3 linked regions of the Homo sapiens genome follow. The protein of the gene in region 1 interacts with the protein of each later gene in a biochemical or structural test. Each region holds a gene or a part of one and is shown on either strand. Other genes may lie near its edges. The genes, in order: SOS1, ANXA2 and NOSTRIN.

Region 1 (5,374 bases):
ACTTTTTATTGTCTGCATCTCCTCACTAGATTATAAAACCCCATGATGACATGTACTTTTGCCTGTTTTGTTTATTGCCATATTCCTAATATCAGAATTGTACCTGAAGAATAAATATTTGTTGAATGCTGAATAGTCAGATGGGCCCTTATCAAATGCTTATAACCTAAGGTCACTCAGAACTAATTTAAGTGATGATAAACAGCAAAGGAAATCATAAAGAATCAAATTATGAGGGCTTCAGAATAAGCAACCAACCTCTTAGAAGATACCTAAAAGCCAGTAAACTTTGACAATGCATCCCTCGTAACTTTAGTTAGCATTTACTAAGCACCTACTCTGTGAAAGGCATGTGCTTTACACATATTACCTTTAAACCTCATAATAGCCTCAAACAGTACATCTGTTAACCTCCTTGTATTGATGAGAAACAGATTAAATAACTAACTTCTGCAAAGACATGATTCCAAAGCACCTGCTTGTTCCTATCACATTGATTCTTCCTTTTCTTGATGAGTTACTGAGGTAGAGAAATTAGCTGTTAAGTGGGCTACAGTTTTTCTTGCCTCCAGTAAGAATCAAGAGTCCTAAAATGTTAGAATGGCCATAAACTGCTTTTTTGGAATTGTACTCTGTATTGAAGCCATCCTTCCCTCTGGACACCATGTGCAGCTATCAGCAAAAAGGCAGGCTTAACTATGGACTGTACCAAACAGACTAATCTGCGATGACCTAAGAGGATTAAAATAAGTTAAAAAGTAAATCACTGGGTTAAAGCTCAGAATAAGTGATAATTCAAGAGAAAATTCAGAATCAAGTTTAACAAAAACATTATTGTCCTATAACTATTAAATTTATTACCTAGAATATACTCGATAATTCATGCTTGGACTGCCACATGATATTGGCTAAGTCATCTCATTTCTCTAGGCCTCATCTACCTTAATTTTTAAATCAGGGGATTGGCTCTCTAAGGATTCATCAATTTTTACATCCTATAGTTCACACTGAATGACGGTACATTTGCATCATTCTTTAGTTACAACCCTAAACTCACATTTTCATGCCAAGCCTAGAAAAAGAATTGCTAAAGGTCAGGCTACCTCATTCCAGCAGATCTCAGCAAAAGCTGCCTGTCAGGGAACGTGATATCTCAAAACTTCTTTTATGGAATACAAATGCCTTAGCACTCTGAAACTTCATCCAGGTGACACTCAAGGTCACTTTAAATTACTAGTTTTCATCCCAGAGGCCTCCCACTCACTACAATCAATCAGCAGATTTGACACAGAGGAAATGTGGAACTTCTTTTATCCTTTTATAACTTGATACAGGAAAAAAGTGCCTCCAAAGAAAGACCACAATAAAAATGCAAAATATTTCTATATGGCATATATGAGCTAAATGAGAATCACTAATGATTTCAAAAATACTGCCCTCTAAAATAAATACATGCAAAAATAATACACTTGTGGGCTATGTAAGGCATTTTTCTTTATTATTTTTCAGTTTATCTTAGTAATGCCAGAAAAATAACAGCCGTTATTTTCACTTTAAATGCAAACCAAATACTGCTGCACACAGAGTACAAAGATTACCTATGAACATGGTTAGGTACAAAGGCCATATTAGATGTATAGACCACACTTTGTTCTTACATCAAAGACCGACCGACAGAGCAATTTTTTGACAATTATTTTAGCAAATAACCGTGCTACTAAACAAAGGCAAATACACATATATACACAAACACGTCTCAACTAAAATTATACATGTCACTTTGACAAACAAATTCTCTGGTGGTTTCACCAGATATTTGCACCCCAAAGTTCCCTGCCCAAATCCCGACCCCAAATGCTGACTTGATCTGAAGAAAAAAATTAGAGATGTTCTTAATTAAAGGCACATTTGGCAGCTACTGAAAGTGGCATGCATCTGGCACAGGTGCGCTCTCCCTAAGCCACACCACATGTACCTTCCATCATCTGTTATGCATCTTGTTTCTTTGAGTGGTAGTCCAATGTGACCCACTGTTAGCTAATTTGCTTTATAATTCTGCAGCAATTGGCTACTTAATGCACTATTTTCATTAAAGGCAAAAGGGAAATTTGCTCACAGTCGACAGAAAATGCACTTTACGGTGTCAAAAATGGAAAATAAGGCATGGAATTTACTAAACAAGTTACAAGTGCTTTTGTTGTTTAGATTTATAATATAGACTTCATGCTTCTTAAGTAGAGCTCAAAATATTTCATTGGCTCATGTATAAGGGATTATGAAATAATCTTAAAAGTTAGTAATGAGATGTTTCAAAGAAGAAAAATATTGAATAAAGTCATCATGTTCCCTTATAAATAACTTTACTGCATAATTCTTTCAGCCAAACCAATATTAACCTTGTGATGTTTAGTTACTGGTAAAGATTAATGCAATACAACAGGACCTATACTTGCGTAGTCACACAATATATGTTAAAAGAATAAGTAAACCTATTCACAGCAGCAGAATACCAAGAAATAAATGGTTAAACTGTTTCTTTCTAAATCTGAAGGAACAAAAAGGTTTTCTTCAATATGTACAACACTAATAAATTGGGACACTCCTCCTATTTTGCTGAGTCACTTAAAAATCTGAATTTAAGCTGTCATATTAGAAGACAAACAATGAAATACAAGATTAAGCTAAACTTGAGAATTAAGATCATGACCATAAATACCAACTAATTTTTGGTTTACATAAGGTAATTTTTGATTTATGGAGGGAAAAAAACCTTTAAGAATTTAGAATCATAATATAGCCTCCAGCTGACATAGTAATTGTTCTCTGGGCTGTTGTTGACTGTAGTATTAGTGTGGCATGCTCTTTGTCAAATTCAGATCCATTAAAGCATCCTTGAGTTGTTAGAGAATAGTAACCTACTAAACATAATTTGATGCCCAACAACCTTTAATTAAGCGAACTCTCAATGTATGTTTCCTGATAATGTGTAGTCTTAAAATACATCAGCCTTGAAATATTTTCATTTCTAAAAGAAATGTTCCACATTTTGGAATGTGGTTAACAAAAAGTCATGCTGCATTTACCCCCTTGTAATGTCCAGGATTCAAAAGCAGAATTTTGTAATGATGCATTTATCTCCTCAGCCATTTCTGGTCCCTGATTAAATAGATTTTCATTACTACAAGGATAAATTTGTCAACTAGTTAATGTTTCATATTGAGAAGAAGGCAAGGATGCCATTTTCTCACCTCCACCTAAGGGCATCCAATTGGCATTTTTCTAATCAGTTACCACTGCAGAAAATATTTTTACCTAAATGTAACAGTTCAGAATAAAAATATCCTCCATCCACAATGCATGTAAAACTGTTGCACAGTGAAGTGGTCTCCTAGAACCATGGGGTAGAAGAATAGTTCCCTTTGGGAGAAATAGGATTAGAACTCCAAATCTGAATTTTTCCTCTTTATAGACTAGATAGGTTGAAAAGGGGTTATCACCTTATTGAAGGCTAACACATTAGCCGAAGACATACTGAAGGGGGTCCAATGTGACTTTTACCAGGTTCTCATTTGGAATGTGCCTGGGGCAATTAAAAAGAGAAGTAATCCATGAGACATAAAAAGAGAAATCTTAGGGACAATGAGGCTGGCCCAGTATAAAGTCCAGGGAGATTCTGGACTGTCTATCATGATTAGTTGTAGCGGCTCTAGTAAGTTGGCTCACATAAATACTGTTGAATGGATGGTCTTAGGGACACTTTGCATCCAAGAGGGGATTTGAAATTAATGTTTTAGGACGCTTTTCAAAGAGGAAATATTTTATAAAGAGAAGAATGGCTACCATCATAGGAATGGTACAGATATTGAGAAAGGATTCAATTCTAACAAATAAATAAGAAAATAGGATAGACTGCTTAATGATGGTGCAGTTAACATACCTTCTGGTCTTAAAGGACTACATACTGTACTATCGTGATGTACATTTTATGCTCTAATAAATATCATAGGAAATTATTAAAGTACTAGGTTCCCACCATGTTGCAGCACTTCTAAAAATGTCTCTAATGGTGTGGTTAACAGAATTGCTGAAATGTTGCTTCATTATTCAGAGGATACATGCAGATGCTGATGAACCAGATAAACTCTCTAAGGATGGAATACTGCACATTTCACAGACATTATAGTGGAGATTAATAAAATGTTTTCTCTTCAACAAGGTGCATGCATTTCAGTCACAGTATTTGTTAGACTCAGAAGAACAGTACATACGCTTTATGAATAATCCATATTATGATAGTAATGATGCAGGTAGATGTTCTATTATGAATAGTTTTGATAAAGCAGAAAACCTCAAGCAAGGTAGAATGTTCAATATAAACCTTAACAAACTGTATACTTGTTGCTTAGGAACTTAAAACTTACTTACAAAGTTCTGCTTAAAAGATACCCATCCTATTCTAACCAAGTATCTTCCTATATGCCAAGCTGTGACTTTAGATCATTCTTTAAGATTAATACATATATCCAGAACTAGAAACCAAGGCGTACCACAAAACGTGCTTTTATGTTTAGTGTTTTTGTGTGTTTTTCAACTAAAAGAAATAAGAATCAACCATTTTCTTCATATAATAATTTAATATATGCCAGCCAAACAAAGTATTTGTATCTTTATTCAATTAAATTAAAACAGACCTGCCAGGTATATTATATAACATTCACTATATACATATGATTTAGGCAATGCAAGATAATTCTAGATATGCTGATTACTCAACTATGTGTAAAACATGAGCGGTGTCAGTGATGCCCAGCAAGTGCTCCTTTTCACATTGGGTGCCTGCATTTCCATGGTATGGTTAGAGGGATAGCTACGAGCCATGACATGGACTACCAGTAAACTTCTGTGGGAGAAGGAGGGAAAATGACAATCTAGCATAGATGAACAGTCTCCTAAATGCAAATAGAATAGTTGACAGTTATTTTTTTTTAAAAAGTTCTTCTGTCATGTTAATGACACAAAACTTCTCTTTTTTGAAGGCAACACCACCACATTTTGTTTGGGTGTGTGGGGACAGGTGGGGGGAATGCTCTTAAAATTGGTACAATTATTCCTAAAACAACAACAACAACAAAAAAGTACCTCTTTGGTGAAGCCTCGGTACCCATTCAGTTCACCGTAATAATCTGTAAACAGGCCTGTAGTACAGTGCCGGGCCTTGATTTCAACAAGGTCAGGTACCACAGCCTTTCCTCACAGTCCTTTGAGTGATTTTTAAGAAAATATTCTAAAGTAGAAGAGTAAAGCAAAGGAAAACAAAGGAAGATATTAAGATCCCTGTTTAAGTTTTTTTTTTTAAAAGTGCATAATTTGAATT
Region 2 (8,371 bases), on another chromosome or scaffold:
CAGTTAAAGCACCTTCCATTGGGCCCAATTACATAGATTACAACAGTGACTGACAGCTCAAAAAGGTCTGTTTCAAGTCCCTAATACCTAGTAATAGATACCAGTAAAGCCACTCGAATCACAACTAAATAGATTCTTGATGAAAATAAGACAAACTGATCTGAAGTGTTGATGGTCAGAAGAAACCTAGGAGAGGCTGACTCATCCCTGCCTCCAAAGGTCCACAGACTCGGTTTTCAGGAGCGCTATTTTTATCAACCAGGATCATGAAATGTTGTCGACATTTTATCATTCTTAATGACGTCTTTTCTGCAGTACAGTCTACTTAGGAAACTCAGACAAGTCCGCTAAAATAAACTGAGCACAGCTTGGGCTAAGCTGAAGAACTAAAGGAAGAAAGAGACTTAACAACAAATCTTACAGCAGCCCTGAGCTATCAAATTCCAGGCTTTGGAGATGCCCAGTGTCCGAAGCACCCTCACTCTTGTGTTCTCTGGGAAAAGGATGACAACTGAACTGTGACATTAGCTCTGGTGACAGGCTTACAGCTCAGACTGTTCATAATTCAGGAACAGTGGCATCAGAGAAAACAGACTCGGAATAAAAAATCAAGACCAATGGTTTCCCTCATCTACAGCGCAGACTTTACCCATGTATATCAGCAGAGGGCAGTGTCGGACTGTTCAAATGCTGCAGACCCACACTAAGAAAAGGGTCCAAATGTGTTGCAGTACAACATACATTAATGTGTGTGCATCTATTGCATTTATATAAAACTTGATGTTGGCCAGGCGCGGTGGCTCACGCCTGTAATCCTAGCACTTTGGGAGGCCAAGGTGGGCAGATCACCTGAGGTCGGGAGTTTGAGACCAGCCTGACCAACATGGAGAAATCCCGTCTCTACTAAAAATACAAAATTAGCTGGGCGTAGTGGCGCATGCCTGTAATCCCAGCTACTCGGGATGCTGAGGCAGGAGAATCTCTTGAACCCGGGAGGCAGAGGTTGCAGTGAACTGAGATCGCGCCATTGCACTCCAGCCTGGGCAACAAGAGCGAAATCCATCTCAAAAAACAAAACAAAACAAAACAAAAAACTTGATATTTTAAGTATGCACAAAGTTCAGGAGGTTTCCAATCTACAGTTTTTACTTAATTTAACCTAAAATTCCAGGTTCAAAAGAACTTTACAAAAGAAAAACATAAAAGATAACGTGCATTGAGACTTCACAGTTACTTTCTCACAGGTACGATTCAGGTACGATTCTTCATCCAGAATTACCCCTTATATGCACTATGATGTTCTGATTCTGCCTGAATTTGAAACAAATGGTACTGACAGAGAGAGTATGGGAGGAAGAAACACCCACGAAAGGATGGGCAGAATTTGCAAGCTTCACTTAACAAAAGCTATGAGTTTTTTTTTCTTGCCTTAATATCACAACATATCTTTTTAAAGGAGGAAGTGTAATCAAGGAAGTAGTTTTCCCAAATGGTATTCCAATTGCCCAGGTGCTGAGTAGTAGCAGCTGGTAACTGACTTCTCAGCATCATGAAATTTCTTTACAGTCTTAAAACAAGTAATTGAAATATTTTTGGTACAAATCCTGAGACATATAACTTCAGTTCATTTTTAAAAAATGGTTCCAAATGAGAATTCAACAAAACTGAAAATCACCAAATTACACTCAGAAAGCTGTAATTCACAAAATTAATAGCAGATTTGACAGAGATGACATCTCACATGCATTTACCTTCATGGAAGCTTTTAGCTCAGAAGCGTCATACTGAGCAGGTGTCTTCAATAGGCCCAAAATCACCGTCTCCAGGTGGCCAGATAAGGCTGACTTCAGTGCTGATGCAAGTTCCTTCAAGATAACAGGCAATCATAAGGAAAATATTTATTTTACTTTAAAACTAGTGAGTAAAACAAAAGTAAGAGGGATCTTTTTGTGAAGCAGGTTGTGAGTCTTTGACCACTCCGGAGTCTTGGGTCAAACGCCCTCAACTGCATTCCCTTCAACAGACCCACATCTCAGAAACATAAACATCAGGCTTTGCTTCAACGAAATTCCTTAAAATCCAAGTTAATTTTGCCGTCTTCCCCGGTCAATAAAAGGAAACTGGAGTCGTATGTGATTCCTAAGAAAGCTGTGAGAGTGCAGGCACTTTGCAATATGCTTGAAAGCAGTAACACTCCGTGGAAGGCAGGACGCTTTCGGAGATCAAGGCCCCTGCTAAGAAGGAGATGTTTGAGCAGACAGCCTCCTGGCAAGCAGATCTTGTGGCCTCCCGATATACTGTAAAAGACGTGGGGGCAGCCATTCCAGCGGCAGCTCCTCAAAGTCACCAGAAGGAACCAGAGGCCGCAACACAGTTGGAAGTGAGGTCATGAAACTTTCCTATGCAAAACACTTCATCTAATACTGAGAAAATATCTCCTTGTCCACACCAAACTCGGACGGTGTTTAATGGAAGTGATAGGAAACTAACACCCCCGAACTGGCCCCCTTGAATTCCCTGCTGCATGTAATTTCTTAAGGGTTGGATCCACTGTCACCATGAACACAAAAATTTGTCAGAGGTCTGGTCAGCACCCATGTATGTAGACAGACACCCCAACTCAATGTGTCTTTTAGCGATGCTTCCTCGAGCTAAACTTCCTACAAATCATGGCTGATGACTGAAGCCTCCTACTGAAATAATGTTCTTCTTTTCGCTTTTTTTTTTTTCTTCTCTCTCTTCTTTCTTTCCTTGCTTTCTAAGAGCACCTGTGGCATCTACAAAGCTTAGCCCCTACAGGTACTTGCAGGCTACGAGAGGTGATTTGCAGCATGCTTCAGAGACAACCATGCTGAATCATTCGTAGATGTCAAAAGTGTTAGAACTGACATGGATCTTAGAAGCCACCTGGCTTTCACCACCCATTTTCTCCTGCTTCCCAATGTCCCGGGAACACACGGCACTTAGGAGGGGACTGTAAAAGCAGTAGCTCCCAATTATAACACCAGTCTCCCAGTTTGGAACTTTGAGGTTAGGTAACTCCAAACTTAGCCTACCCTTGACACTCCCCTCTACCCATTCTCTATTCAAACCTCAAATAGCATTTGGGCACCTACTGACTTCTTCCACTTCTATTCTAAACTCCTTATGGGCGTTCAACTTCCTGTTTCTCACAATGTCCAGCACAGAGCTTTGCATTTAACAAAAACTAAACAAAAACTCCAGAAATGTATGATAAATCAAACATAACCCTTCCCTGTAAGGAGAAGCCTCGCATCTGGCGTCTGCTAGAACATGAAAGAGTCGTAAAAGCAGCTGTCTCTCCCAGCTCCTCTCCACTCTGCCAGCCGGGCCTAGGTTCTTCAAGCTCATCACCTGGGCAGCTGCAGCCCGTATCCCTAAAGAACTCTGCAGCACAAATCTTCCTTATTTCACAAATTTTCTTCTTTATTTCACAAACAGCCGATTGTTTCACTTGAAACTATCTCAAGTAGTTTACATATCTTTTATAAAAGATACATAATTCTCCTTGGCCTAAGGCTGAGAGTCAAGAATTAGTAGGATGATGAGCTGTCCCCAGCACACAGCAAAGCCTGTGAGATCTTGGGACCTCATCATAATTCTGGTAATATCTTCCCTCCTAGAGGGTATGTGGGAGCTTTGTTCTACATATATCTAATCTAAAACCAAGATCTAGGTTTTGGGTGTGGTGGCTTATGACTGTAATCCCAGCAGTTTGGGAGGCTGAGATGAATCATTTGAGTCCACATGGCAGAAGTTGCAGTAAGCCGAATCACACCACTGCAATCAAGCCTGGGTGACAGAGCAAGACCCTGTCACAAAAAAAAAAAAAAAAAAAAAAAAAAAAAGTTTCAGGCTTCTATGTGTGTGTGTACACACCCAAATGTATTCCAAGACCATACTCTGTGACAGCTGAAAGATCAAATTTTTTGCTTGCTATCCAGAGATGAGCCTTCTGCTCCACTGGGAACTTGGCTCTACCAGCTCACAGACCCCTTTGGGAAGCTGCAGAAATAAAACACTCCCCTCTATGCCTCACTACACAAGATTAATACACTTCTAGTGAAAGAAGAATTTTAATGCACTTGAGATGAAAGAAGCCAGATGCTTTCCTATTTATGTCCTTTCCAACCATTTAGAGTGCGGGGGATGGAAGTGTAGCAAGGCTTGACCTGCAACTCCCAGGACCCTGCTGGTCATGTCAATCCCAAGGGCAGAAATATCTCTTCTAGAATCCTTCCAGCTCACCTCCACTGTGGCTACAAGTGAAAGCCATAAGTCAAACGGGAGCTGCAGGAAGCCACACTTACTGCACTGTCCAAGAATAAATCAAAAGCTTTTAATAGCAAGAAGTTAAAAATAAAGCAGCACGTCCTTAAAAATAAAATTTCCTACAACTGACAAAATAAAGGACGAACACGCACTGGTTGTTTCTTAACCACTAGTGGACAAGCAAAGGGAAAAAGCACACAAAGACCCTTTAAATAGTAGGAGCATGGCATGTTGAAGATAGCTTTGCAGACCAAATGAACTAACAACTAAGCCCACTCGTTGCAAAAAGCTTAAGAATTCAAGTGTATATTTTTAAAATGAGAGGAGCTTGTTAGGATCAACACTCAGTGGAGGCTAGTATCCTAAAATTAAATTAGAAACATCTTATCAAGAACCAGCAGAAGTCATAAAGATGAAATGAGTTGCTACATGTACAAAACTGAGCACAGTGCCTGGCCCAAAGTAAGCACTCAATAAATGGTGCCTGTTGTTGTTATTGTTGTTGTTCCCTATTCCTAACTTTCTATTCCCAGAAGCTCTCCCTCCAGGTAGCCTGGGTTGGGGGAGGGTACTGTCCTTACACAGGAGCTCCCAAGCACTCTAAAGCGAGCGTGACCATCTGCGCTCTGCCTCCTCTCAGATCAACGGTGGCATGAGATTCTCACAGAAGCGCGAACCCTACTGTGAACTGCACACGCGAGGGATCTATGTTGTACACTCCTTATGAGAACCTAATGCCTGATGACCTGAGGTGCACGCGCGCGTGCACACACGCACACACACATGTGCAGTGACTCTTACAAGGATTTAAGAAGAAAATCTTAGATATCCAAGGGTCCCACAAGTCTTTTGCGCATGAGAGCCACAATTCATGAAAAGAAAAAGCAATGTCTGAGGAAACAAAAATTCAACAAGAAATGCCCTCCATCCCTGGAATTGCCTGTACCTTTTTGGTCCTTCTCTGGTAGGCGAAGGCAATATCCTGTCTCTGTGCATTGCTGCGGTTGGTCAAAATGTTGACAATGGTGACCTCATCCACACCTATGGAAATACAAGTTGTTAATCGTTACTCAGTATACTCTAGTATTTTGGGCTTACATAGAAGGTGTCAAGCAGACTTTTTCAAACTGAAATTTATATACTGTTTTCCAAACTGAAATACCCAGACACCAAGATTTGTTCTATCTCTTTCGTCAGCATCCTCTACCCAATGTGTACACTCTCTTTCCTTTTTTCTTGAGAGCCTCAAACCTCAAGCTTAAATGGACCTTTTAAATACTTGTGGTTTAAAAACTATTTTATTCATAAATTGGTTTCTGGAATCAACAGTAGGAGGTGCATATGTGGGGCTTTGGCAGTCAGATGGAACAACAGAGATTTAGTAGGATTTTAAATGAAGGTCCCCAAATTGCCATTTAACTCGGGATTTAATAGAGAGTAACTGCAAACTGAATTAATAGAGATAATTATTTATACTTATTGCAGGATTATGGCTATATAAGCAGCTAGGTATAATTTCTATAATTATAAAAACTGTCATGACAAATGAGTCAGATTTAACACGGCAGTTGTATTTTTAATAGCATAATTGATTAACACAATCACACTTATTGAAGACAAAATTGTTTTGTAAGGAAAATAAACGTTCCACTGCCTTTAATCTTCAATAGGCAATTTTAATAATTAATTTTATAACTTTATTAAAAAGAGTAAGTGTTTTAATCTAAATTAAATCTAAATTGGGAGTTTTGAGGTGCCACCAAAATATTTTAGTACCTATTTTAATTGGAACATGTGTATTTACAAAGATAAGCAATGCCTTCTGGTGTCTGCAAGTTTCCAATTTCATATCAGAAATACTCCTAACATGCCATTTAACTTAAGAAAGCACAGTTTGTAAATTCAGAATGTGAAAAGTCTCTCTCCTGACTGATTAATAACTTTGTTTAATGAAAGAAACAGTCTTTGCCATAACTGGATAGGTAACTCTTGGGTGAGAGAGTAGAGTTGCTAAACCTACAAAGTCACTTGCAAACTACAAATGGCTTGGCCTGAAGAAAATCAGAGGAGTCCTGAAGAAACAGAAAGGTCAAAACTGTAACGCTTGAGACAAAGACAAACAGCAGATTGACAGAGGAAGTATTTTGAATTCTCAAGTGTGTTAGATCAAAAAGTATAAAGTTAGAATTTCTGGGTATAAAAATAAATAACTTTTTAAAATGTATATGCTCATTTCAAAGCAAGTCCATACCAATATGCTTGCTATCTTAACTGTAGCATCTATAACTTTAGCTCTCATTTTTAGAGTAGCCAAGGTAAACATAGAAATCCAATTGCTGCTGAGTCTCCCTCTCCCTCTCCCTCTCCCCCTCCCCCTCCCCCTCCCTCTCCCTCCACGGTCTCCCTCTGATGCCGAGCCAAAGCTGGACGGTACTGCTGCCATCTCGGCTCACTGCAACCTCCCTGCCTGATTCTCCTGCCTCAGCCTGCCGAGTGCCTGCGATTGCAGGCGCGCGCCGCCACGCCTGACTGGTTTTCGTTTTTTTTTGGTGGAGACGGGGTTTCGCTGTGTTGGCCGGGCTGGTCTCCAGCTCCTAACCGCGAGTGATCCGCCAGCCTCGGCCTCCCGAGGTGCTGGGATTGCAGATGGAGTCTCGTTCACTCAGTGCTCAATGGTGCCCAGGCTGGAGTGCAGTGGCGTGATCTCGGCTCGCTACAACCACCTCCCAGCCGCCTGCCTTGGCCTCCCAAAGAGCCCAGATTGCAGCCTCTGCCCGGCCGCCACCCCGTCTGGGAAGTGAGGAGCGTCTCTGCCTGGCCGCCCATCGTCTGGGATATGAGGAGCCCCTCTGCCTGGCTGCCCAGTCTGGAAAGTGAGGAGCGCCTCTTCCCCGCCGCCATCCCATCTAGGAAGTGAGGAGCATCTCTGCGCGGCCGCCCATCGTCTGAGATGTGGGGAGCACCTCTGCCCCACCGCCCTGTCTGGGATGTGAGGAGCGCCTCTGCCCGGCCGCGACCCTGTCTGGGAGATGAGGAGCGTCTCTGCCCGGCCGCTCCGTCTGAGAAGTGAGGAAACCCTCTGCCTGGCAACCGCCCCGTCTGAGAAGTGAGGAGCCCCTCCGTCCGGCAACCACCCCGTCTGGGAAGTGAGGAGCGTCTCCGCCCGGCAGCCACCCCGTCCGGGAGGGAGGTGGGGGGGGTCAGCCCCCCGCCCGGCCAGCCGCCCCGTCCGGGAGGTGAGGGGCTCCTCTGCCCGGCCGCCCCTACTGGGAAGTGAGGAGCCCCTCTGCCCGGCCAGCCGCCCCGTCCGGGAGGGAGGCGGGGGGGGGGGGGGTCGGCCAGCCGCCCCGTCCGGGAGGGAGGTGGGGGGGTCAGCCCCCCGCCCGGCCGGCCGCCCCGTCCGGGAGGTGAGGGGCGCCTCTGCCCGGCCGCCCCTACTGGGAAGTGAGGACCCCTCTGCCCGGCCAGCCGCCCCGTCCGGGAGGGAGGTGGGGGGGTCAGCCCCCCGCCCGGCCAGCCGCCCAGTCCGGGAGGGAGGTGGGGGGTCAGCCCCCCGCCCGGCCAGCCGCCCCGTCCGGGAGGGGGGAGGGGGGATCAGCCCCCCGCCTGGCCAGCCGCCCCATCCGGGAGGGAGGTGGGGGGGTCAGCCCCCCGCCCGGCCAGCCGCCCCGTCCGGGAGGGGGGAGGGGGGGTCAGCCCCCCGTCCGGCCAGCCGCCCCGTCCGGGAGGGAGGTGGGGGGGGTCAGCCCCCCGCCCGGCCAGCCGCCCCGTCCGGGAGGGAGGTGGGGGGATCAGCCCCCCGCCCGGCCAGCCGCCCCGTCCGGGAGGTGAGGGGCGCCTCTGCCCGGCCGCCCCTACTGGAAAGTGAGGAGCCCCTCTGCCCGGCCAGCCGCCCGGTCCGGGAGGGAGGCGGGGGGGGGTCGGCCAGCCGCCCCGTCCGGGAGGGAGGTGGGGGGGGGGGTCAGCCCCCCTTCCGGCCGGCCGCCCCGTCCGGGAGGTGAGGGGCGCCTCTGCCCGGCCGCCCCTACTAGGAAGTGAGGACCCCTCTGCCCGGCCAGCCGCCCCGTCCGGGAGGGAG
Region 3 (8,739 bases), about 130 Mb from region 1:
TTACGGGATATGGAACATTAAAGAGCATAGTCTACTCCATCCTTTCCTCCTTTTACTTTACACACAAGGAAACAGAGGTCCAAGAAATGTGGAATGGCATGTTACACATCTCACTGATGCACACTGGGGAGGCTGTGGGCCACGTGACACCCATGCCATATGCAGCCTCCTTCTGTATTTTTGCAGCGAGTCAGATTCTCCTAGGAGCTACGGACCATGGCACCGGCACCATCTGAGTTAGTGACAGTCATTGTCTGATATCCAGGCTAAGCCACCAAGATGGGAAGCTCAGGTTGGCATCTGAGCCAGGTTACCAACCTGAGGAGCAGCCTGGTGCCATTTCAATGGCCGATGACATGCGGGGAGGGGCTGACTGTGTGGCGCCCAGAAGACTTGCTTTGACAGACCCCTTCCTGGATACTGTATGAGTGTGTAAAAAGCAAAAATTTGGCTACAGCTTGTTACTTGTCCTTGATTTCTATGTGATTGTTTGATAGGAAGGTGCTATTAATACTTTCTTATGATTGGATTCTTTCCCTTAGAGATAATTGGATCTTACTTCGCCTTTCTTGCACATGGATTTGAAGATGAGTTCCCTAGACATATTTTTAGGTTTAAGAGCTAAACCTAAACCTTCATAGGCAATGAAACATCAAGGCCCAGAGCCAATTCTTTTCCTTGTCAAAAACAGAACTTTAAAGATATCTTACAGATATCTTTTTCAAATAAGTTCTGACACTCTCAAGATTAATCCTACACAGCATTTAGGCAATCTTATGCCACCCTGGCAACAATTTGAACTCAAACACTGACCTTGCTCTTTGAGGTTGAAAGGCCCAGCTGTCAGTCTATTTTGCCCATTAGAGCTTGATCTAAAAGAGATTTTTAAATTTTTTCGTACCATGAGCCCTTTTTGTAGTCTCATGAAACCTATTTGATTCAGAATAACATTTTTAAGTAGCGTAGGGTTAAAAAGGAAATGAATTATATATTTTTTAGAATGTATTTTTAAAATTATGATATTATGTGCTTTTTTATTAACATACTAAATTACATATCTTAAGTATTACCAACATTTTGAAGTCAGGGTGAATGTAAATATTTCTAGATATGTGCAACAACTGTAATGTTATCATAAAATTTCTGATTTTTATTGGTTACAAAGTCACAGACACTATACAGATATGACTAATAGTATTGGGGCTTGTTGCCTATATTCTGGATTGAATAAAATTCTAAATTTCAGTTAGAAATTAGTACAAATAGAGATTTTTTTTCACTGAAGTTCATGCAACCCACTGAGTTCCATACATGGGTACATTGGTGTGGGCCCGGTTAAGAACAGTAGCTAAGCTAATACTTTATGAACTGTGCTCTGTGCAACTCTAGGGACTCATGGAAGGGGACATTTTGCAGGTGGTTAAAGCTTTGGGTTCTTTTATAAAACTACCTAAATGTTTCATGAGGCACTCATTTGCAATCCATTTCCTTGTCTTATTTTGTTCCCAAACCGCAGATTCATCTTCACATAGCATTGTTCCCCAAGTACAAGCTAAGAATGTGCCAGGAAATCAACTTGAACACTTGATTAAGATGAAACAATTGCAAATAAATAAATGTTCTGTGAGTTTAGAGGGTTTGGAAACCCAGGCTGAAGGGATATCCGCCCTCCCCATGACTCCCGGATACTTTTGGTGGCAATGAGCCCATACAGATGACCTTCAAAGTTTTAGACAAGGACAGGAGTCCTTGGCCCAGCATAGCACAAGGAACTATTCAGCATGCCAGGGAGTGGAGCTTTAAGCAGACACAGAAGTGTGGTTATGGGTTGCCTTGGGGGCTGCTGAAAGAAAACATTTCTCCACGTCTGAAGACTTGACTTTGCTGTCTACAAAAAGGATGTTAGACCTTCAGTTTCTTTTTTATGGATTTATTTCTTCTTCTCTTTTTAAACTTAATTAAAGCTGCCCACCATTTCCCTGTCTTCTGTCCATTGCACCCTTCCCTGGTGTTAATTTTCTTCTTTGGTTACTATTAGTGCCAAGATTTTGCTGCCACTTACCCCATCCCTGTCCTGGCCTGCCGCCCCTATACAAAAACATTGAGGTAGGAGTGTTGAGACAGGAGAGGATTTAACAGTTTAGTCAGGGAGCAACCTCAAGGAGAGAAAAATAAATGATAAAAGACTTCTTAAAAATTATTCACAATTAACAATGGAGAGAACACTGAGATTGAAGTAATTAAAGGGGGAAGTTTCACTCTTAAAAATCTATATATAACCATATCATTGGAATTTGTTTCTACATTAAGCACAAATTATTTCTGTATTTAAAAAAAGGAAAATTAGGCAGAATTGGCTACTATGTTGTCATTATTAAAATTACTAGTCATTTATGAGTTCATCTCATTTAGCTCATCTGATTTTCTGCAATAGTAACTATAGTTCCATTTTTTCCAACCATGTGCTTTTCTTATCCATTGAATAAACAAAAAGGAAATCAATAATCCTCTGCTGATCTTTTTCTTTATGACTTTATCTCAGCGCCCATTTATCTGCCGCCCCACAGTTTGTGTTATCAATACATGAAGGATGACTGCAACCTCCTGCTTATGATGTCACCAATCTTAGCTTTTCAGCCCCATGTGTTGGGATAAAACACTGACCCTCCTTAATTACTTTATTTTCAAAGTAAACATATCCCCCCCTTTATTTTAGTTGCTTCTTATCTCCTAAATTACATCTCTGCTATTGCCGCCGGAGACCTCACAATGTCTTTGGACTTCTGACCAAACTTATATTTTTGGTAGTGCTCCAAACATTACCAAAACGAACAAACATGGAACAAACATGCTGCTAAACCAGTCTGAGAGCCACTGCAGGCCAGGCAGAGTGGGGAGTCTATCCTTCCTCCTGCAGGACTTGTGATCCTTGACTCCAAAAAATGAGGGTGAAAAGGCACAAAAACTCTCCTCCCTCACTTTATTCTCAGAGCCAAAAATTGGCTGCAGACATTCTGTGTGTTTTTGTATCCACACCACACATGATGTTGGCACCATGGGTGTATGTCTTAAGAATGTTTTCCAAACAGCCACCATCTGGATCCAAATATGAGGCTTTACTCTCTCAAAACTTTTTCCAAGAATATGAGAAGGAAAGATGACAATTACCTGCCCTGTCATTTCCTAGAAAAAGCTCTGTTTTTAAACTGAACCAAAGAAAAACCACAAACTTTTGCACCACAGCCAATATCTAAATGTGTTTGGTTTCTGAGTGTCTCAAATTTCTTAAGTTAAAATCCATTAATATACAAATCCACCCTCCACCCTCCTCACACGCAGGCACACAAACCACACTGAGCTACTCACCGGACAATCTGTCAGTGGGTCCCTCATGTTGAAATGTGTCTGGCTTTTGTCCTTTCACCTACGCTCCAGCATTCTGGACACTGTAATCAAGGTTGGGTGTGTCCTGGACTTCCGGGATTCAAAGGGCCTAGAGTACGTCAGTCCTTGTCAAACATTCCAAGGAGGAAGTCCCAGCCCTGGACTTTCATCCCGTTTGTGTCCCGAGAAAGTAAAGAACTGCTCTGGGTCAAGACGGCCAGTGTGAGATAGTGAGAATGACTTCTGTAAACCCTCAGAGGGCAGGATCCTGAGTCCTGAACAGCGTAACATTGAGAGAAGGCAGAGAAGCTGTAACATGTCTCCAACAATTCTTGCGCTTGGTCTGACAGTGCAGGAACACATATCCTCTCAGCCTGCAGTATTAATCATGCTTTTTATTTTCTGTATTGTATGATGCTTTGACCTTTGGGGACCTCATGGACTTGGAGACAGACTGCCTCTCTGAGGGTTAGCTAATTCCTAGAGAGAGCAAACAACTGGCCTGTGAGCACTCCTTTAATATGCAAACCAACAAATCCAGAGCCCAAACCTCCCCACCATCTCTGTTACCCAGTTCTCAAATACCAAGCCCATATTCCCCCACCCCCTAAATCCCACAGGGCCAGACACCAAACAACTAGGAACCTACACCTATAGAACTATAACTATAGAATGTTCAGAAACAGCTATCAGGAGCAAAGCGTACATTAACCACTTCTCTGAGCCTAACTCCACACTCGCTCCAGCCCCAACAGGATCAAGAGGCTAAGCTTTCAATGTAAAGAAAAAATTGCCTAGATCTGGCCTCATTTTTCATCACTCAAAAGGATAGACAGAACAAGAACTCAACCACAGCTTGAGTTCTATTGCATTCCCTGTACCTGTGGTCCCAGTTGCCAATCATTAGATTTCCAATGAATGGCCTATTGATGTACGACAGCCATTTGCTAGACTGTGGACAGTTCTGTTTGACTGGCAGGCAAGGGCAGGCCCCAGTTTGAAAGGAGCTCCATCAACACAGTCCAGTGGAACACTTCAGAGTTTAAAAGCATTCAGTTTTCACCTGACTGGCTGACTCAGCCTCCATTCACCTGCCCCTGGTGTGCAGGCTCCATTCAAAGTCCCTAGAAATAAGCCAGTTGCAGTGGCTCATGCATGTAATCCAAGCACTTTGGGAGGCCGAGCCTAGAGGGTCACTTGAGGCCAGGAGTTTGAGAGCAGCCTGGGCAATATAGCAGGAGATTCCTATCTCTATAATTTTTTTTTTTTAATTAGGATGTGGTGGTATGTGCCTGTAGTCCCAGCTACTCAAGAGGTTGAGGCAGAAGGATTTCTTGGGTCTAGGGGTTCAAAGCTGGGCAATAGAGTGAGACTCTACTTCTAAAAAAAAAAAAAAAAAGCTTCCAGAAACAACGTAGAAGAGTCAGGGGACAATTAAGGAAAAGAACTTGCCTTGCAACAAGAGTGGAGAGGAGGGGTCTTTTCCACACACTTAATGCCCTCCCTCTTTGCTTATCCAAAGAACTTGATCACTGGAGGTTACAACAATCTTGGGTAGCTACCACAGGGCTAGAATTAGACAAAGCAACTCTGTATAATAAAAGAAATTTAGGTAAGGCACAGTGGCACACACCTGTAATCTTAGCACTTTGGGAGGCTGAGATGGGAAGACTGCTTGAGGCCAGGAGTTCGAGACCAGCCTGGTCAACATAGCAACACCCCATCTCTTTTTTTGTTTTTTTTTTAAAAGAAATTTAGAGACAGGATATAGACTGAGGTTAATAACATGTAACTCAAATTCCCACTTGAGGGGGCTTCTCTGCCCTCAGAGATTTTAGATAAACTTGTCCGGAGCCACCATTCCAGGACTTGGGACAGCTCAATGTTTTCTCTGTGATTCCTGCCCCATTTTTCTTGCTGTTCTGTGTTTCATTTCAGTCCCAACTGAGTCCAAACTGAGGAAATTGGCCTCCCTTGCCAGTTTCCATAAGAAGTGCTGTCACACAAAGCCTACTGTGATCTTTGTATACGAATTATAGATTGGTAGGGCACTCCTATCCCCAAACTCCTCATGTGTGCCATTCCCAGTGGGCTGACTAGCTTTCCCTCAGACCTCCTGGACATCTGCTGAATTAAAATCCTTCCATCTTGCTCCTGTCTGCCACTGGGCCGTTGTAAGGGCAGCAGGGCATCCCAGCTGAATCCAGACTGAGAATTAGAACTTGGCTATTTGTTGAGCTTCTCGGAGGAATGTTTGAATGTGCAAAAAGCCTTGATTTTGGAGGTCAGAAATAGGTTGGTATCGTTTATCCTTTGTCACAATAATGCTGTGTAACAAACAGAAACCCAGTGGCTTCAAATGACAGAGACTTTATTTGGTTCACAAATCTGTAGTTTAGCTGGATGGATCTTCAGGTGTCCCCTGACCTCACTCATGTAAAAGCAGGTCATCTACACAGGGCTTGGCAGAGCCATGCATCTGGGCTTTTCTGGGCAGGGGGCTGGCTGGGAGCTAGCTGTTGGCTGAGGCCGTATTTCATCAGCTGGTAGTCTAACCAGGCTCTTCTCAGGGTATGGCAGAGGAGCCACAAGAGTGAGTGGAAGAGCTCGAGGCCTCTGGAGGTACAGCTTAATATGGACATCCCATCATTTCAGCCACATCCAGCTGATCAAAGCCAGTCATGGGCCAGCCCAGATTAAAGGGGTGAGGAGAGCTTCCACTTCATAATAGGAGGAACTTAGTGTCCCATTGCAAAGGGCATAGAGACAGAGAGGGGCAGACAATTGGAGTTAGTTTTCCATTCAATTTACTACAATGGCTGCTTAATATTTGTTCTTGAATGACTAGAGATAAAGCAGCAAGGACAAGGAGCAGGTGGCTGGTATATGTCTTTCTTTCCCTCTCCCCAATCCAGCCTGGGGTGACACGTTTTGAACCTCAGCAGACTGGCGTTAGGAAGAGAAATAAGAGGACCTAAATCATAAAAGACTCTAGACGGATAAGGGCTGTTCTCTCCTCTGACCCCACATTCCACCCTACACATACTCTGCTAAGGAGCACAGCAAAAAGCACCTCTCCTGGATATGGGTTGTGAGGAGGCAGCAGCAGGGAGAACCTGCTAAGTTGTCTTCAGCCACTGAGGCTCAGGTAGGTGAGGCATCTTGATGAGAAGGATAGAGCAGACCACAGTGAGCACATTTGTCCCCGAGCATGTGAGAATTCCTCCAGTCCCCAAAAATGGCCCAAGGGGACTTTGGGAGGAGGAGACTGAGTTCCCATGTGAGTAAGAGGAGCAAAGAATCTTGTAGTTTTGGAATTAATATTAACAACCTCATTTGTACCTACAGGTTGATGAGAATGTGAACCTAAAGGAAAGAACAACTGAGGCCAACTTAATATAAGTAGAGCATTTACTTGGGCCAAGCTTGAGGGCTGCAACCCAAGAGCATAGTTTCAAGTGGCCCTGAGTATACGCTCTGGTTAGCAGCAGGTACAAGTAGGTTTTCAAAGGAAAAGAAGAGGAAGAGGAAGCTCCTGAGTTGTTTGCCAAGAATTTCCATGAAAATAACACAAGCTGTTGATTGGCTCTACACTGTTCTGTGAATCACAAATTCCAGGACCATAAAGATAGCAGATGAGGCAGCTAGTCAGGAACAAGATGCCTTTACATGATTGCTTCTAGGTGTGGGTTCAAGGAGGCAGAGCAAGACTTGAGCCCCATACTCCCCTCTCTGGGCCTGATAAATTTTGCATACCTCATATAGCTCAGACTGCTCTAAGCCATTTTTCTTCTCTCAAGAACTATCTTCTGTCTGTCTGTCTGTCTGTCTATCTATCTATCGATCGATCGATCGATCGAAGCATCTCCTCCAAGAAGGTATGCCATTCACACTTTCTGAAAATTTTAATGCACAAAGAGTCCTTTTGAGTTCTCTGTTCTCAGATTCGTCTCTGGTCCTACATTTCTGACCCGCACTCATACTCTGGCTGCTTTCCAGCCTGGCTTCCGGTTAGATTTACTGTCTGACCTCTCCTATCCTAATCTTCCTGCTTTCTTTCTCAGTCTCTGCTCAGCATGTGCCTTCCTGGTATGGCCTCTCTGCAGAAAGAAAACCTGCAACGGATTCCCTTCCAGGGTCTGGCCTGGAAGCTGCTCTGCTGGACTCCAACTTTGACATTTTGTGCTGCCTCTAAGGGGAGTTAACAACATGAGTACGCATTTATGAAGTATTCACAAACAAATATTGGGTGTTGGTAAGCTAGTAAGAAAAAGGAGCCCAAATGTAATAGAAGCTCATGGCAATTCAAAACTTGCCTTGGAAGTTTCTTTAGTAGCCAAAGCGTGCAAAGAATTGGCAACAGCATGAACATCATCAATTGAGACCTAGTTAAATACTTTATGGTAATATGAGCCCACATTTAAAGGACATACCACGTGTCAGGCACCATTCTAAGTGTTTTACAAATACAATTGGCTCTCCATATCCCTGGGTTCTGCATCTGTAGATTGAAAATAATAATTTTAAAAATAACAATAAAAATACAAATAAGTATTTATGACTATTTATATAACGTTTACATAGCATTAGGTATTATGAGTTACCTAGAGATGATTTAAAGTACATGGGAGGATGTGTGTAGGTTATATGCAAATATGACACTATTTTATATAAGGGACTTGAATATCTTTGGATTTTGATATGAGGGGGTATCCTGAAACCAATGCCCCATGGATACTGCGGGATGACTTATTAACTTATTTAATCATCACAGTTATCATTTGAGGTAGATATGTATTATTTTGATCCTTATAATACCCACAGGGCAACAGAGGCACAAGGTAGAGACAGGGTCTCACCATGTTGCCCAAGCTTGTCTCAAACTCCTGAACTCCAGCGATTCATCTGTCTTGGCCTCCCAAAGTGCTGGGATTACAGAAGTGAACCACCACACCAAGCAACATTAAAAAAAAAAAAAATTTAAGGTTAACACTTATGCTAACTTTAATTTTAAAAAAAGAACTGACAGTTGAGATGATGACATGTTATTTTTGTATCTCTAGGATTTTGCTTATGCTGTCCCTTCCAGTGGGAAGTCCTTATAGCTTTATGTTGGCCCAGCTGACTTTTACTTATTTCCAAAGTCTAGCTTGTGTTGCTTTCCCCAGAGAGAGTGAACTCTTGCCTTTGTACTACTGCTATCCATTGCACACACCTCTTTTACTTTGTTTATCTTATTGTGTTGAAAGTATTAGTTTAGGCTGGGTGTGGCAGCTCATGCCTGTTATCTCAATACTTTGGGAGGCTGTAGCAGAAGGGTTGCTTGAGCCCAGGAGTTCAAGACCAGCCTGGGCA

The links.
Region 2: the proteins of SOS1 (region 1) and ANXA2 form a complex in vitro, tested with the Homo sapiens proteins (one study listed by BioGRID).
Region 3: the proteins of SOS1 (region 1) and NOSTRIN form a complex in vitro, tested with the Homo sapiens proteins (one study listed by IntAct).

The regions. Positions count from the first base shown.
Region 1 is NC_000002.12:38,980,080-38,985,453, forward strand, and holds the end of SOS1 (son of sevenless homolog 1), read right to left. Parts: 3' UTR 5,285-5,374; coding exon of another isoform or gene 5,231-5,284; 3' UTR 1,470-5,230; downstream 1-1,469.
Region 2 is NC_000015.10:60,359,190-60,367,560, forward strand, and holds part of ANXA2 (annexin A2), read right to left. Parts: intron 5,335-8,371; coding exon 5,240-5,334; intron 1,866-5,239; coding exon 1,752-1,865; intron 1-1,751. UniProt on the Homo sapiens protein: Calcium-regulated membrane-binding protein whose affinity for calcium is greatly enhanced by anionic phospholipids. It binds two calcium ions with high affinity. May be involved in heat-stress response.
Region 3 is NC_000002.12:168,797,301-168,806,039, reverse strand, and holds the start of NOSTRIN (nostrin), read right to left. Parts: upstream 3,404-8,739; 5' UTR 3,394-3,403; coding exon 3,367-3,393; intron 1-3,366. UniProt on the Homo sapiens protein: Multivalent adapter protein which may decrease NOS3 activity by inducing its translocation away from the plasma membrane.